4 linked regions of the Homo sapiens genome follow. The gene in region 1 interacts genetically with each later gene. Each region holds a gene or a part of one and is shown in the gene's direction. Other genes may lie near its edges.

Region 1 (3,500 bases):
TTGGGATGTTAGACAAGGTACTATGCCTGTATCTCTGCTGAAGGCTCATGAAGCTGAAAGTAAGTATTGTGAAGATACAGAAAGTTTATATTGGGTGAGTTATATGACATATAATAAGCACCTTTCCATAATGATACATGTGGATCATTTTACATCATAGCTTTTAATGGCTGAATTGTGTAAATTTAAATAGTTATGTAATTTCTTTTTACTCGACATTTAAGTTCTTTAACATTTGTTTTTGTTTTTTTGGAGACGGAGATTCACCCTTGTTGCCCAGGCTGGAGTGCAATGGCGCTATCTTGGCCCACCGCAACCTCTGCCTCCTGGGTTCAAGCGATTCTCCTGCCTCAGCCTCCCGAGTAGCTGGGATTACAGGCATGCACCACCACACCTGGCTAATTTTATATTTTTAGTAGAGACTGGGTTTCTCCATGTTGGTCAGGCTGGTCTTGAACTCCTGACCTGAGGTGATCTGCCCAGCTCGGCCTCCTAAAGTGCTGGGATTACAGGCATGAGCCGCCGTGCCTGGTTTTTTTTTTTTTTTTTTTTTTAAAGAGACAGGGTCTGGTTCTGTCGCCCAGGCTGGAGTGCAGTGGTGCAGTCACGGCTCACTACAGCCTTGACTTCCAGGGCTCAGGTGATCCTCCCGCATCAGCCTCCCAAGTAGATAGGACTATAGGTGTGTGTCACCATGCCTAGCTGATTTTTTGTTGTTGTTTGTTTTTTTTTTTGTAGATATGGGGTTTCACTTTATTGCCCAGGCTGGTCTCAAACTCCTGGGCTCAAGTGATCCTCAGGAAGTGCTGAGATTACAGGTATGAGTTATGAGCCACCACATCAACCACAGGTTTAATTCTTATATCCAAAACTGTAGTTAGAATCCTTAGATATTTATCTCTGTGTGTGTTTTTTTTTTTTTTTTTTTTTTGGAGACAGGGTCTCTCTCTGTTGCCTAGGCCAGAGTGCAGTAGTGGTGTGATCATAGCTCATTGCAGCCTTGAACTCCTGGACTTACACGATTCTCCCAAAGTGCTGGGCATAGCCATTATGCCCATGCCCAGCCTTATGTACTTATTTTCTTAGGATAATTTTTTAGAAGTAGAATTGCTAGGCCAAACATTTTGCATAGCGCATTGACAGATTTTTCTACACAAAAATAATACCAGTTTAAGCCAGGCACATTGGCACATGCCTGTAGTTCCAGGCTCCTCCTACTCAGGAGCCTGAGGCAGGAAGATTGCTTGAGCCTGAGAGTTTGAGGCCAGCTTAGGCAACATAACCTCTTTAAAAAGTTAATAATACTAGTTTAATCCAGGTGAGTGGCATGCACCAGCTTCTCAGGAGGCCGAGGCAGGAGGATTGCTTGAGTCCAGGAATTCAAGGCTGTAGTGCATTATGATTGCACCTATGCACTCCAGCCTGGACAATATAGTGAGACCCCACTCCCTGAAAAGTGATAAAAATCATACCATTTTATATGCCATAGTGAAGTGTGCAAGAATGCCCTTTTCCCATGCAAATGCAGGCTGTCATATTTGTTAATAAATGTTGTGCTCCTCAATTTATTGTTGCATCACATCATTTTTTTTAACATGAACAATAGATTTATAAGCTTTTTTTTTTCTTTTGATTCTGGTGGAGATGATTTAGCCGGACAGAAATTTTTCATTTTCTCACTCTGTCTTTGATATCATGCCAGAATGGATTATCCTTTTTTTTTTTTTTTTTTGAGACAGAGTCTTGTTCTGTCGCCCAGGCTGGAGTGCAGTGGCACAATCGCGGTTCACTGAAACCTCTGCCTCCTGGGTTCAAGCCATTCTTCTGCCTCAGCCTCCCTAGTAGCTGGGACTAAAGGCATTTGCCACCATGCCTAGCTAATTTTTGTATTTTTAGTAGGAATGGGGTTTCACCATGTTGGCCAGGCTGGTCTCAAACTCCTGACCTCAGGTTATCTGCCTGCCTTGGCATCCCAAAGTGCTGGGATTACAGGTGTGAGCCACTGCGCCCGGCCCTATATATTTTTTTAAAAATGGGGTCTCTCTCACCCAGGTTGGAATGCAGTGGCATGATCACAGCCCACTGCAGCCTCAGCCTTGCCTCCCTGGCTCAATCAGTCCTCCCACCTCAGCCTCCCGAGTAGCTGAGGCTACAGGCACGCACCCCTACTACACCCGGCTAATTTTTTATTTTTTGTAGAGACAGGGTCTCAATATGTTGCCCAGGCTGGAGTGCAGTGGCATGGTACCTCACTTAAGCCTCAACCTCCTGGGGTCAAGTGATCCTCTTGCCTTGCCCTTCTGAGTAGCTGGGACTACAGGTATATGCCACTACACCTAGCTAATTTTTTTTATTATTAGATTTCTATAGAAATTATGATTCCATAAAAGATTTTGAGGAAATGATGGCCGGGGGCGGTGGCTTATGCTTGTAATCCCAGCACTTTGGGAGGCCGAGGCAGGTGGATCACCTGAGGTCAGGAGTTCGAGACCAGCCTGACCAACATGGAGAAAGCCCGTCGCTACTAAAAATACAAAATTAGCCGGGCGTGGTGGCACATGCCTGTAATCCCAGCTACTAGGGAGGCAGAGGCAGGACAGTCACTTGAACCTGGGAGGCAGAGGTTGTGGTGAGCCAAGATCGCACCATTGCACTCCAGCCTGGGCAACAAGAGTGAAACTCCGTCTCAAAAAAAAAACAAAACAAAACAGATTTTGAGGAAATGAGGAAGACTGGTATCTTTCAGAATTGAAAGTGATTTTGGAATATATAGAATTTCTTTGGGGCTGGGCACGGTAGTTCATGCCTGTAATTTTAGCACTTTGGGAGTCCAAGGCAAACAGATCTCTTGAGCCCAGTTGTTTGAGACCAGCCTGGGCAACATGGAGAAACCCCATGTCTGTTAAAAATACAAAAGTTAGCCAGGTATGGTGATACATACCTGTAGTCCTAGCTACTCAGGAGGCTGAGATAGGCGGATTGCTTAAGCCTTGGAGGTCAAGGCTGCAGTGAGCCATGACCATGCCATTCTGCACTCCAGCCTGGGCGCCAGAGCAAGACCCTGTTTCAAAAAGAGAGAGAGAATTTCTTTGAGTTGAATTATGTAGAAGTTTGTCACTGACCTATGTTCCTAAAGTATGAAGCATACATATGTGGGCTAAGAAATAGTTTTTCTTGATAAATAATCAACAAATAAAAAATAAAAAGCCCTCCATCTGAGACTGGATCCAAATTCTTGGAACATTTCCAAATTTTGGTTTGGTAGAAGTCAGTTGCTATTTCTGTGATAAAGACCAGAAGTATTCAGAATCTTGGCATTAACCAATATTGGATATTGCCTCTTAGAAATTCATTTTTATATTTCATTAGGATCTTTCTCAGTTTTTCCAATAATATAATCTTCATATATTAATGACACAGGAATTGAAAAATAAGACAACTTACCAATTTAAAAAAAAACTTTTCCGTAAAAGACAGTCATTCCTAGCTGGGCACACACC
Region 2 (3,500 bases), on another chromosome or scaffold:
AGGCACTGGAGGTCACTGAAACTTTAGTTTTGTATAGTAATGCATGCTAATAGTAAAGAATTCAAATAGTACCAAAGGGAAAGACAAATATTTCTCCTATCCTAGATCCCCTAGTTCTCAGAGACGATCACTATGAAGTTTCTTATGTATCCATTGAAGTGTTCTAAGCAGGATTGTTATATGCCTAAATCAGGTAACCATATTGAGGCTAGATTGAACAAGACTGGAGGCAGCTGCATTCATGCCTGTAATCCCAGCACTTTGGGAGCCCAGGTGGGTGGGTCGCTTGAGCCCAGGAGTTAAAGACCAGCCCGGGCAACATGACAAAACCTTGTCTCTAGAAAAAATACAAAAATTAGCAGGGTGTGGTGATGTACCCTATAGTCCCAGCTATTTGGGAGGCTGAGGTGGGAAAGTCACTTGAGCCTGGGAGGTTGAGGCTGCCGGGAGCTGTGATTGCACCACTGCACTCCAGTCTGGGTGACAAAGTGAGACCCTCTTTCAAAAAAGAAAAAAAGTCTGGAGGCAGAGAAAGAGGATAGGAAGAGGTTGAGTAACCTAAGCAAGAGCTACTCAGGAACTGAACTAAGGCAGTAGCAATTGGGATAGAAGGATAGACAGCAACTGATAGAAGAACTTAAGGAAGTTAAGTGAGATGGAGCTAAGGTGACTCCTAGGTTTCTTTTTTTTTTTTTTGAGACAGAGTTTCGCTCTTGTTGCCCAGGCTGGAGTGCAGTGGTGCGATCTCAGCTCACTGCAACCTCCGCCTCAAGCGATTCTCCTGCCTCAGCCTCCTGAGTAGCTGGGATTACAGGCATGCACCACTACACCCAGCTAATTTTGTATTTTTAGTAGAGACAGGGTTTCTCCATGTTGGTCAGGCTAGTCTTGAACTCCCGACCTCAGGTGATCCACCCGCCTCGGCCTCCCAAAGTGCTGGGATTACAGGCATGAGCCACCACATCCAGCCTCTTTTTTTTTTTTTTTTTTTTTTTTTTTTTTTTGACGTGGAGTTTCGCTCTTGTTTCCCAGGCTGGAGTGCAATGGTGCGATCTCGGCTCACCGCAACCTCCACCTCCTGGGTTCAAACAATTCTGCCTCAGCCTCCCAAGTAGCTGGGATTACAGGCATGCACCACCACACCCAGCTAATTTTGTATTTTTAGTAGAGATGGGGTTTCTCCATGTTGGTCAGGCTGGTCTCAAACTCCCAACCTCAGGTGATCCACCCACCTCAGCCTCCCAAAGTGCTGGGATTACAGGCATGAGCCACTGCGCCTGGCCCTAGGTTTCTTTTAATAAGGTGAAACTCTTAGCCTTCTTCACTGAGGAGATAGTGTCAGTCCTTGAGAGAGCCAAAGTGGAGACAGACTTGGGAAGATGAGTTCAGCTTTAGACCTATTGAGTGTAAGGTATCTTTGAGACATAAAGGTAGAGAATGCTATTCAGTTAGTCAGTTTAACATACGAGATTGTCAACTCAATAGCTCAGAGGGGCCAGAAATACAGATTTGCTGGCTTCTGGCTTGGGTGGTAGTTGAAGTGCATGGGAGAGGGTGAGTTTGCCCAATCAGGCCGCGTACAGTGAGAAGGGAAGAAGGCTAAAGATGCAGGCCTAAGGAAAATCAGCACTTAAGTAGGAGGAGGAACAGCCAATAAGAGATCAAAGGGGAAAGTTTTATTTTATGTTGGATTTTTCCCCCCTTAAGATGAGCTAGGACAGGTGTGGGGGCACATGCCTGTAATCCCAGCACTTTGGGAGGCTGCGGTCGGAGGATAGCTTGAGCCTGGGGGCTTGAGGCTGCAGTGAGCCGAGATCGCACCACTGCACATCACTACACTTTTGAGATACTGCCTCAAAAGAAAAAAACAGATGGAATAGCCTTGAGCAACTCATAATATATGGGGATGGGGCTAGTATAAAGGGAAGGTTGGAAATAAGGAATAACCAACTAAGGGACAGGAAGTGATTAATGAGGATCACAGAGTACTTAGATTAGAAGCAAAGAACTAAGGGTGGGTGTTTGAAATATGTATGTTTTTAGGCTTGGGTGGAGAGAGTTGAGAGAGTTCATGTCTGATAACCTCAATTGTTCCTAACAGGAAGGAAGCAGATAAACCAGGTGGGAGGCAAGGAAGCAGTAGAGTGAAGGGGCTTGAGGATAATGATGAAAGTTAGGAATAGTGGTTCTTTGGGAAGAGACAATGAAGGGGACCAAGAATACAGAAATGAGGCTGGGCACGGTGGCTCATGCCTGTAATCCCAGCATTTTGGGAGGCCGAGGCAGGTGGATCACGAGGTCAGGTGTTCCAGACCAGCCTGGCCAACATGGTGAAACCATGTCTCTACTAAAAATACAAAAATTAGCCAAGCGTGGTGGCGGGCACCTGTAATCCCAGCTACTTGGGAAGCTGAGGCAAGATAATCGCTTGAACCCAGGAGGCGGAGATGCAGTGAGCCGAAATCACGCCACTGCACTCCAGCCTGTATGACAGAGCAAGACTCTGTCTCAAAAAAAAAAAAAAAAAAGAATACCGAAATGATTTGCTGGACCAGGCTGAAGGCCCTGCTCAGGTTGCAGGCTATACATGTTATCGGGGGAACCAGCCCCCAATATTTCAATGTAGGTTCTTTTCTATTTTCCCTAAGTGTCAGCTGGTCTCATAAATAAAGAGAAAGACTACAAAGAGAAGAATTTTACAGCTGGGCCTCTGTGGGTGCCATCACGTATTGGTAGGACCATGATGGCGACTTGAGCCGCAAAACCAGCAAGTTTTTATTAGGGATTTTAGAAGGGGAGGGGGGTACGAATAGGGAGTGGATCACAGAGATCACATGCTTCAAAGGGCAATAAAAGATCACAAGGCAAAAGGGCAGAGCAGGATCACAAGGCAAGGGCAAAATTAGAATTACTGATGAGGGTCCATGTCCCACTGGGCACACATTGTCTTGATAAACATCTTAACAGGAAACAGGGTTTGAGAGCAGAAAACCAGTCTGACTAGAATTCACCAGGCTGGAATTTCCCAATCCTAGTAAGCCTGAGGGCACTGCAGGAGACCAGGGCATATTTCATCCCTTATCTCAACCGCATAAGACAGATAATCCCAGAGCAGTCGTCTATAGGCCTACCCCTGGGAATGCATTCCTTCCCCAGGGTTATCAATTATTAATATTCCTTGCTGGGAAAAGAATTCAGTGATATTTCTCCTACTCACATGTCGTTTATAGGCTCCCTGCAAGAAGAAAACTATGGCTCTATTCTGCCTGACCCCCCAGGCAGTCAGACCTTATGGTATCTTTCCTTGTTCCCTGAAAATCGCTGTTGTTCTGTTCTTTCTCAGGGTGCCCTGATTTCATATTGTTCAAACACACGTTTTACAAACAATTTGTACAGTTAATGCAGTGATCACAGGGTCCTGAGATGACATACATTGTCAGTTTATGAAGATGACGGGATTAAGAGATTAAAGACAGGCATAGGAAATTATAAGAGTATTG
Region 3 (3,500 bases), on another chromosome or scaffold:
CTGCTTTATCCCTTGGCTCTGAGAGCAAAGCTCAGGAATCATTTCAGGTGAAACCTGTCCCCATTTCTTCCTTAGGTCTCCATTTTGTCAGCAATGGAGCTCATCTGGAACCTGTGTGAGATTCTTTTTATTGAAGTGGCCCCAGGTAGGCATGGAATATCTCACCATAATCTCATAGGTGTCCCCTTCCATCTTCTGCTCTTTCCTCATCTTTCCTGTGCATGGTGATGAGTGTTTTATTCCTGAGAATGTTCTTTCCATCATTATAACCACGGGAAGTCGTTAGAAAACACCCAAAGAAACCTGACCGTTTTGTCAGGTGCTGCAAAAAGAATCATGCAGAGTGCCTCCAAGAAACCTAAACCCTGACAAGTACTGAGAAATATTAAACTAGTGTGTGAAAGGGGGTGTCAGTGTTAACATCATGGACTGGCCAAGCTTAAGAAAGTTTTATGAATGTGGGGTAGGATTAGGTGGTGAGAGGCAAAGTCACATTGGGAATTCTGTCATGAATCATTGGGACAGGGCAACTCTGTGTGTTAACTCTGCCAATGGGTATGAACTCTGCCAATGGGAATTTTTCTGTTGATCTTTTTTTTTTTTTGAGACAGAGTTTCACTCTTGTTGCCCAGGCTGGAGTGCAATGGCGTGATCTCAGCTCACCGCAACCTCCACCTCCTGGGTTCAAGCGATTCTCCTGCCTCAACCTCCTGAGTAGCTGGGATTACAGACATGCGCTGCCACGCCTGGCTAATTTTGTATTTTTAGTGGAGATGAGGTTTCTCCATGTTGGTCAGGCTGGTCTCGAACTCCCAACCTCAGGTAATCTGCCTGCCTCGGTCTCCCAAAGTGCAGGGATTCCAGGTGTGAGCCACCGTGCCCAGCCTTCTGTTGATCTTGAATTAAACTGTGGTCAGTATAGTGTCATGGCCTGTATGAGCTCTCTGTGGATCTGCTGCAGCTTTTTTGCATTTCTTTTAAGGATTTATGTTTGCTATTTTCCATAAATGAGTAGTAACCTCTGTGTAGCCCTAGCATTTTATTCATACTCTCACTAAAGAAGTGAGGAACTTGAAATTAGAGTTGGTTGTTCAGAGGCCTCCCTTCTCCAGTGGATTTTTGAGGAGGTTACAGTTGGCTCTTTGTATCTGCAGGTTCTACATCATGGATACGGAGTGCTGGCTGTACTCTGCCATTTTATTTCATTTTATTTTTATTGATTGATTGAGACAAGTTCTCACTCTGTCACTTAGGCTGGAGTGTGGTGGTACAATCACAGCTATTGCAGTCTGGACCTCCCAGGCTCAAGCGATCCTCCTGTCTCAGCCTCCTGAGTAGCTGGGACTACAGGCACGTGCCACCATGCTAGGCTAATTTTTTGTGTGTATATGCTGGGGGAGGGGAGACAGGGTCTTGCTCTGTCACCCATGCTGGAGTACAGTGGCGTGATCACAGCTCAGAAGCCTCGACTTCCTGGGCTCAAGCAATCCTCCTGCCCAGCCTCCCAAGTAGCTGGGACCACAGGCCTGCACCACCACGCCCGGCTAATTTTTGTATTTTTTGTGGAGAGGAAATTTCGCTATGTTGCCCGGGCTGTTCTTGAACTCTTGGGCTCAAGCAGTCTGCCCATCTTGGCCTCGCAAAATGCTGGGATTATAGGCGTGAGCCACCATTCCTGGCTCGGCTAATTTTTTATTTTTTTTTGTAGAGATGGGGTCTCCCTATGTTGCCCAGCCTAGTGTCAAACTCCTGGGCTCAAGCGATCTGCCTGCCTCAGCCTCCCAAAGTGCTGGGATTACAGACATGAACTACCATGCCCGGCCATATGTTTTGTTTTGTTTTGTTTTTTGAGACAGAGTCTCACTCCGTCACCCAGGCTGGAGTGCAGTTGTGCGATCTTGGCTCACTGCAACCTCTGCCTCCTGGGTTCAAGCAATTCTGCCTTAGCCACCTGAGTAGCTGGAATTACAGGCATGCGCCACCACGCCCGGCTAATTTTTGTATTTTTAGTAGAGACAGGGTTTCACCATGTTGTCCAGGCTGGTCTTGAACTCCTGAGCTTAGATGATCCACCTGCCTTAGCCTCCGAAAGTGCTGGGATTCCAGGTGTGCACCACCAGCCCCCTGGCCCTATGTTTTTATCATCATTGCATACCTGGCTGCTTGCTATCTAGTCATTGTTGGTTCCTAAACGGCCATTACTTATGTAGCTATTAAGTATTTGTGAAGAATCTGGAGTGTGGGGTAGTGAGGTCTGCATTCCATGTTCACCCCTTTCTGGGGTCAGTTAAAGATGGAGCTGCCTGGCACAGAAGTAATATTTGGTGAAAGTGCATTTGCTTTTTCCTAGCACAGTCTGTCATTCAGGACCATGTGTGTGACTGCTTAAAAGGGATAAACCTATGTAGTCAGCTTGTCTGCCTTAAAGTTCTCTGTTCCTTGGATAAAGGAACTTGCTGCAGATGAAGCTGAGGCTTTTGTGTGTGATGAGAGTCTCTCCTCCCAGCTGGCCCTCTCCTCCTCCATCTCCTTGACTGGGTCCGGCTCCATGTGTGCGAGGTGGACAGTTTGTCGGCAGATGTTCTGGGCAGTGAGAATCCAAGCAAACATGACAGCTTCTGGAACTTGGTAAGACAGGCCGGGCCCCCACCTCCCACCATGTGTCCTACTGTCCCTGGTGCTGCCGGGTGGGTCTGAGGACACCCACTGAGCCTCCAGCAGTAGGCTGGCTTTTGGAGTCTGTTACTATGGAGACTCTTTTGGATCTTTTCTTCCCTGCTCTATGGGAGAGTCTAAAACCGAGGTACCATGTAAGAAAAATAATGCTTTGAAGACTTTTCCAGGGTAAAAGGAAATTTGATTTCTTTGTGGATCTAAGGAAGAGAAGACACAAAAAGGAATACAAAACCGTTTTTTTTTTTTTTTTTTTGAGACAGGGTCTCGGCTGGGTGCGGTGGCTCATGCCTGTAATTCCAGCCAGCACTTTGGGAGGCCAAGTCAGGAATCTCTTGAGCCCAGGAGTTTGAGATTAGCCTGGGCAACAAAGTGAGACCCTCCATCTCAAAACAAATTAATAAATAAAAATATAAAAGAGAAAAGATAGTCCGACTCTGTTCCCCAGGCTGTTGTGCAGTGGCCTGATCTTGCTCACTGCAACCTCCGCCTCCTGTGCGGTCCTACCACCTCAGCCTCTCAAGTAGCTGGGACCACAAGTGCCAACCACCATGCCTGGGTAATGATATAAAACCAATTGACAGGGGCTGGGGTGCATACAGGGTTGGATGTAAATGAGCTTGCACATTACTTTGGATCATCAGTTTCGAAGTCAGCATGTCGTATATGTGTATATGGATGTATTTTCTATGTGTTAGGTATTTCCATTCACCTCTGCTGACTGACCCAATTGGGAGGTGGCAGGGAGGAGATCGCTAGTTGACTGGGCTAATGGAAAGTCAACTAAACTTATAAAGCCTGAAATTGGGAACAGATTGTGAGGACAA
Region 4 (3,500 bases), on another chromosome or scaffold:
CACTTTTCATTATAGCTTCTAGGTATAGGGTCTTGCTTTAGGAAAGCCTTTGTCATACACATATTATAAAAATAGAAAATTGTTTTAGAAAAAATATTTTTTATTTGTGGTAGGTGTTGATCCTATTATCTGGGAACAGGCCAAGGTAGATAACCCTGATTCTGAAAAGTAAGTATGTCTTCATCTTGTTTCATTTAAGAACTAATATTTGCTACTAGGAAAGCAAACATGGGAGCTATTAATTATAATTCTTACATATGAGACAAGTTTATTTTCATTTTCCTGGCCTTTAAAAAATATTGATTATTGTCCAGCTAAAGCTTCAGCCAAAACAAAAAGAAAAAAATAAGAAAAAAAAAGATTATGGTAAGGCAGCATAGCATAGTGAGAACTAACTAGGAGCGGAAAATTCTATTTGCGTTTTCATTTAATAATGTAATGTTTTGACTGAACTGTATTTCCTCATTTGTAAAATAGGGAGGTTGAATAAAATCTCTTTGGTATAACATGGTTATCTCATAGTCATAGATCTGCCTTAGAGCCCTAGAAAGTTGATGTAAAATTACATGAGTGTTACTAAAACCTTCACTTCTTGTATTTTGTAGTAATAGGCTTAAGGTCTGAAAATTGTTCACTGCGTTTCTTCAGGTTAATTCCTGTACCAATGGTGGGTTTTAAGGAACTTCTCCGAAGACTGAAGGTTCAAGATCAGATGACTAAGCAGCATCAAACCAGATTAGATGTAAGCATTTAGCTTTTTATTCCCTGGCCCTGGAAGTAGGGAAAGGGATTATAGACATTTAATTCTTTTTAGTATATGTGCTACTGTTTTATCTTAATCAGGAAACAATGTAGCATACACTGCAATTTAATAGTTTTATACAACTACCTTCTTTATGATAGAAGTCCCCAAATCACATGAATCTGATTTGATATAATAATGAATTTAGAATTCTTGTCTTAGTGGATTAATTAGACTGTCATTTCCAGTTTCAGCCAGGGATTGCATATTATTATTTATGGGGCCTTATGAAAATGAAGGTTATAGTAATGATTATTTTATGTTGACATATAATTGTCTTGGTATATTATTGTATGTTGATAAAATTAATGCTTAAATATACTTAATATTTTATTTCATAAAGTAGACTTTTTTAGGAGACCAGGGTGGGTGGATCACTTGAGATCAGGAGTTCAAGACAAGCCTGGCCGACTTGGCAAAACCTGGTCTGTACTAAAAAATTCAAAAATTAGCTGGGTGTCGTGGTGCACGCCTGTAATGCCAGCAACTTGGGAGGCTGAGGCATGAGAATTGTTTGAACCCGGGAGGCAGAGGTTGCAGTGAACAGAAATCGTGCCACTGCACTCCAGCCTGGGCGACAGAGTGAGACTCCTCAAAAAAAAAAAAAAAAAAAAAAAAAAAAAAAAAAACTTTCATAATTAAATACTTAAAGATTCTTAAAGGTCAGAGAAATTTCTATGATTTCAATTCTTTTAACTTTGCTAAGGTTTTTTTTTTTTTTTTTTTTTTTTTGAGACGTCTCTCGCTCTGTCGCCCAGGCTGGAGCACAGTGGCGCGATCTAGGCTCGCTGCAAGCTCCACCTCCTGAGTTCACGCCATTCTCCTTCCTCAGCCTCCGGAGTAGCTGGGACTACAGGCGCCTGCCACCACGCCCGGCTAATTTTTTGTATTTTTAGTAGAGACGGGGTTTCACCGTGTTAACCAGGATGGTCTCGATCTCCTGACCTCGTGATCCACCCATCTCGGCCTCCCGAAAGTGCTAGGGTTACAGGCGTGAGCCACTGCGCCCGGCCAACTTTGCTGAGGTTTTATAACCCAGGAGCCTATGAAAATAATGTGTATTCTGCAGTCCTTGGGTGAAGTTTTCTATTAATGTCAGTGAGATCCAGTTGGTTGATAGTATTGCTCAGTTCTGTATTCTTGTTGTTTTTTCTGTCTGCTAGTTTGAGAAGAGATTTGAAATCTACAGCAACACTTACGGATTTGTGTTTTTCTCCTTTCATTTCTCAGTTTTTGCTTCATGTATTAATAGTTTGAAGGGCTGTTGTTATATAGGATTGTTGTGTTTTCTTGGCAAATTTACCTTTTATTATTATATCATATCCCTCTTAATCCTCGGTAAGTTTTAAATCTTCTCTAATGGCCTTTTCTTTTATTGTTTTTAATCGATACATAACTACATATTTATGGGGCATAGTGTGATAATTCAATACATGGATATAGTGTGTAATGATCAAATAAAGTAATTAGCATATCCATTACCCCATACATTTATCATTTGTTGGTATCATGGGAAATTCACTCCTATAGCTATTTGAAACACAATAAATGGTTGTGAATTATAGTTACCTATAGTGCTATAGAACACTGGAACTTAATCCTCCTATCCAGCTGTACTTTTGTATCTGTTAAGCAACCTTTGGCAGTTCCCTACTCCTACTCTTTCTCCACCTCTAGTAGCCACTATTCTACTCTTTTCTTCTACTAAATCAACTTTTTTTAGCTTCCACATATGAGTGAGAACATGCAGAATTTATCTTTCTGCACGTGGCTTATTTCACTTAACAAAATGTCTTCCAAGTTCATCTATGTTGCTGCAAATGGTAGCACTTCATTCTTTTTCATGATTAAATAGTATTCTATTGTGTGTGTATATATGTGTACACATACACACCATGTTTTCTTTATCCATTCATCTGTTCATGGACACTTACTCAAGACACTCAGAAGTCTTTGTCTGGTGTTAACATAGCCACGCTACCTTTCTTTTGATAAAAAGTGTTTGTATGGCATACCTTTGTCCATCTTTTTGCTTTTAACCTACCTATATTGTTATATTTGAAGCGAGATTCTTGTAGACAGCAAAAAGTTTGGATTTAGTCCTACCATTTATTTGTTTTGTGTTTGTAGCCTCTGTTTTTCATTCCTGTTTCTACTTTTCTGCTTTCTTTTGAGTTATTTGGACTTTTTTTTTTTTTTCAGCATTTCCTTTTAATCTATTATTTCAAGTCTTAGAGCAGTACTTCTTAGTAGTGGCTTGTGGTGGTGGTGGTGATTTTGTCTCCCAGAGCACATTTGGCAATGTCTGGAGACTCTTGGTTGGGGAGTACTACAGGCGTCTAATGTGTAGAGGCCCAGATGCTGCACACATTCTGCAGTGTACAGAACAGTACTCCCACAACAAGGAATTACCCAAGATTAATAGTGCTGAAGTTGAGAAACCTTTCTCTAGGTAATACGATGTATCTCCTCCCACTATAACTAGCAGACTTCCCTTGGAGCTCCCTTTCAGCATTTATGCTCATTTCCAGGTTTGAGGCTGGGTTGAAACCAGACTAGGGACGCCTGAGGGGAAAAATGGGTAAACTCACCACAAGTTTATTGGTACTTTAAATTCCTATCTTACCTGATCTTCCTGCCAGAGTTCCCAAATAGCTGCCCCGTGTATTCCATCCAAGTTTTATAGCTATATTAAATG

What was found. A genetic interaction does not mean that the proteins touch.
Region 2: changes in NUP43 (region 1) and TIMELESS together harm fitness more than expected from each alone (negative genetic interaction), as found in Homo sapiens cells (one large-scale study listed by BioGRID).
Region 3: changes in NUP43 (region 1) and NUP85 together harm fitness more than expected from each alone (negative genetic interaction), as found in Homo sapiens cells (one large-scale study listed by BioGRID).
Region 4: changes in NUP43 (region 1) and NUP54 together harm fitness more than expected from each alone (negative genetic interaction), as found in Homo sapiens cells (one large-scale study listed by BioGRID).

Annotation. Positions count from the first base shown.
Region 1 is NC_000006.12:149,733,030-149,736,529, reverse strand, and holds part of NUP43 (nucleoporin Nup43), read left to right. Parts: coding exon 1-59; intron 60-3,500. UniProt on the Homo sapiens protein: Component of the Nup107-160 subcomplex of the nuclear pore complex (NPC). The Nup107-160 subcomplex is required for the assembly of a functional NPC.
Region 2 is NC_000012.12:56,442,927-56,446,426, reverse strand, and holds part of TIMELESS (protein timeless homolog), read left to right. Parts: intron 1-3,500. UniProt on the Homo sapiens protein: Plays an important role in the control of DNA replication, maintenance of replication fork stability, maintenance of genome stability throughout normal DNA replication, DNA repair and in the regulation of the circadian clock.
Region 3 is NC_000017.11:75,215,679-75,219,178, forward strand, and holds part of NUP85 (nuclear pore complex protein Nup85), read left to right. Parts: intron 1-75; coding exon 76-145; intron 146-2,506; coding exon 2,507-2,628; intron 2,629-3,500. UniProt on the Homo sapiens protein: Essential component of the nuclear pore complex (NPC) that seems to be required for NPC assembly and maintenance. As part of the NPC Nup107-160 subcomplex plays a role in RNA export and in tethering NUP96/Nup98 and NUP153 to the nucleus.
Region 4 is NC_000004.12:76,127,898-76,131,397, reverse strand, and holds part of NUP54 (nucleoporin p54), read left to right. Parts: intron 1-113; coding exon 114-168; intron 169-648; coding exon 649-742; intron 743-3,500. UniProt on the Homo sapiens protein: Component of the nuclear pore complex, a complex required for the trafficking across the nuclear membrane.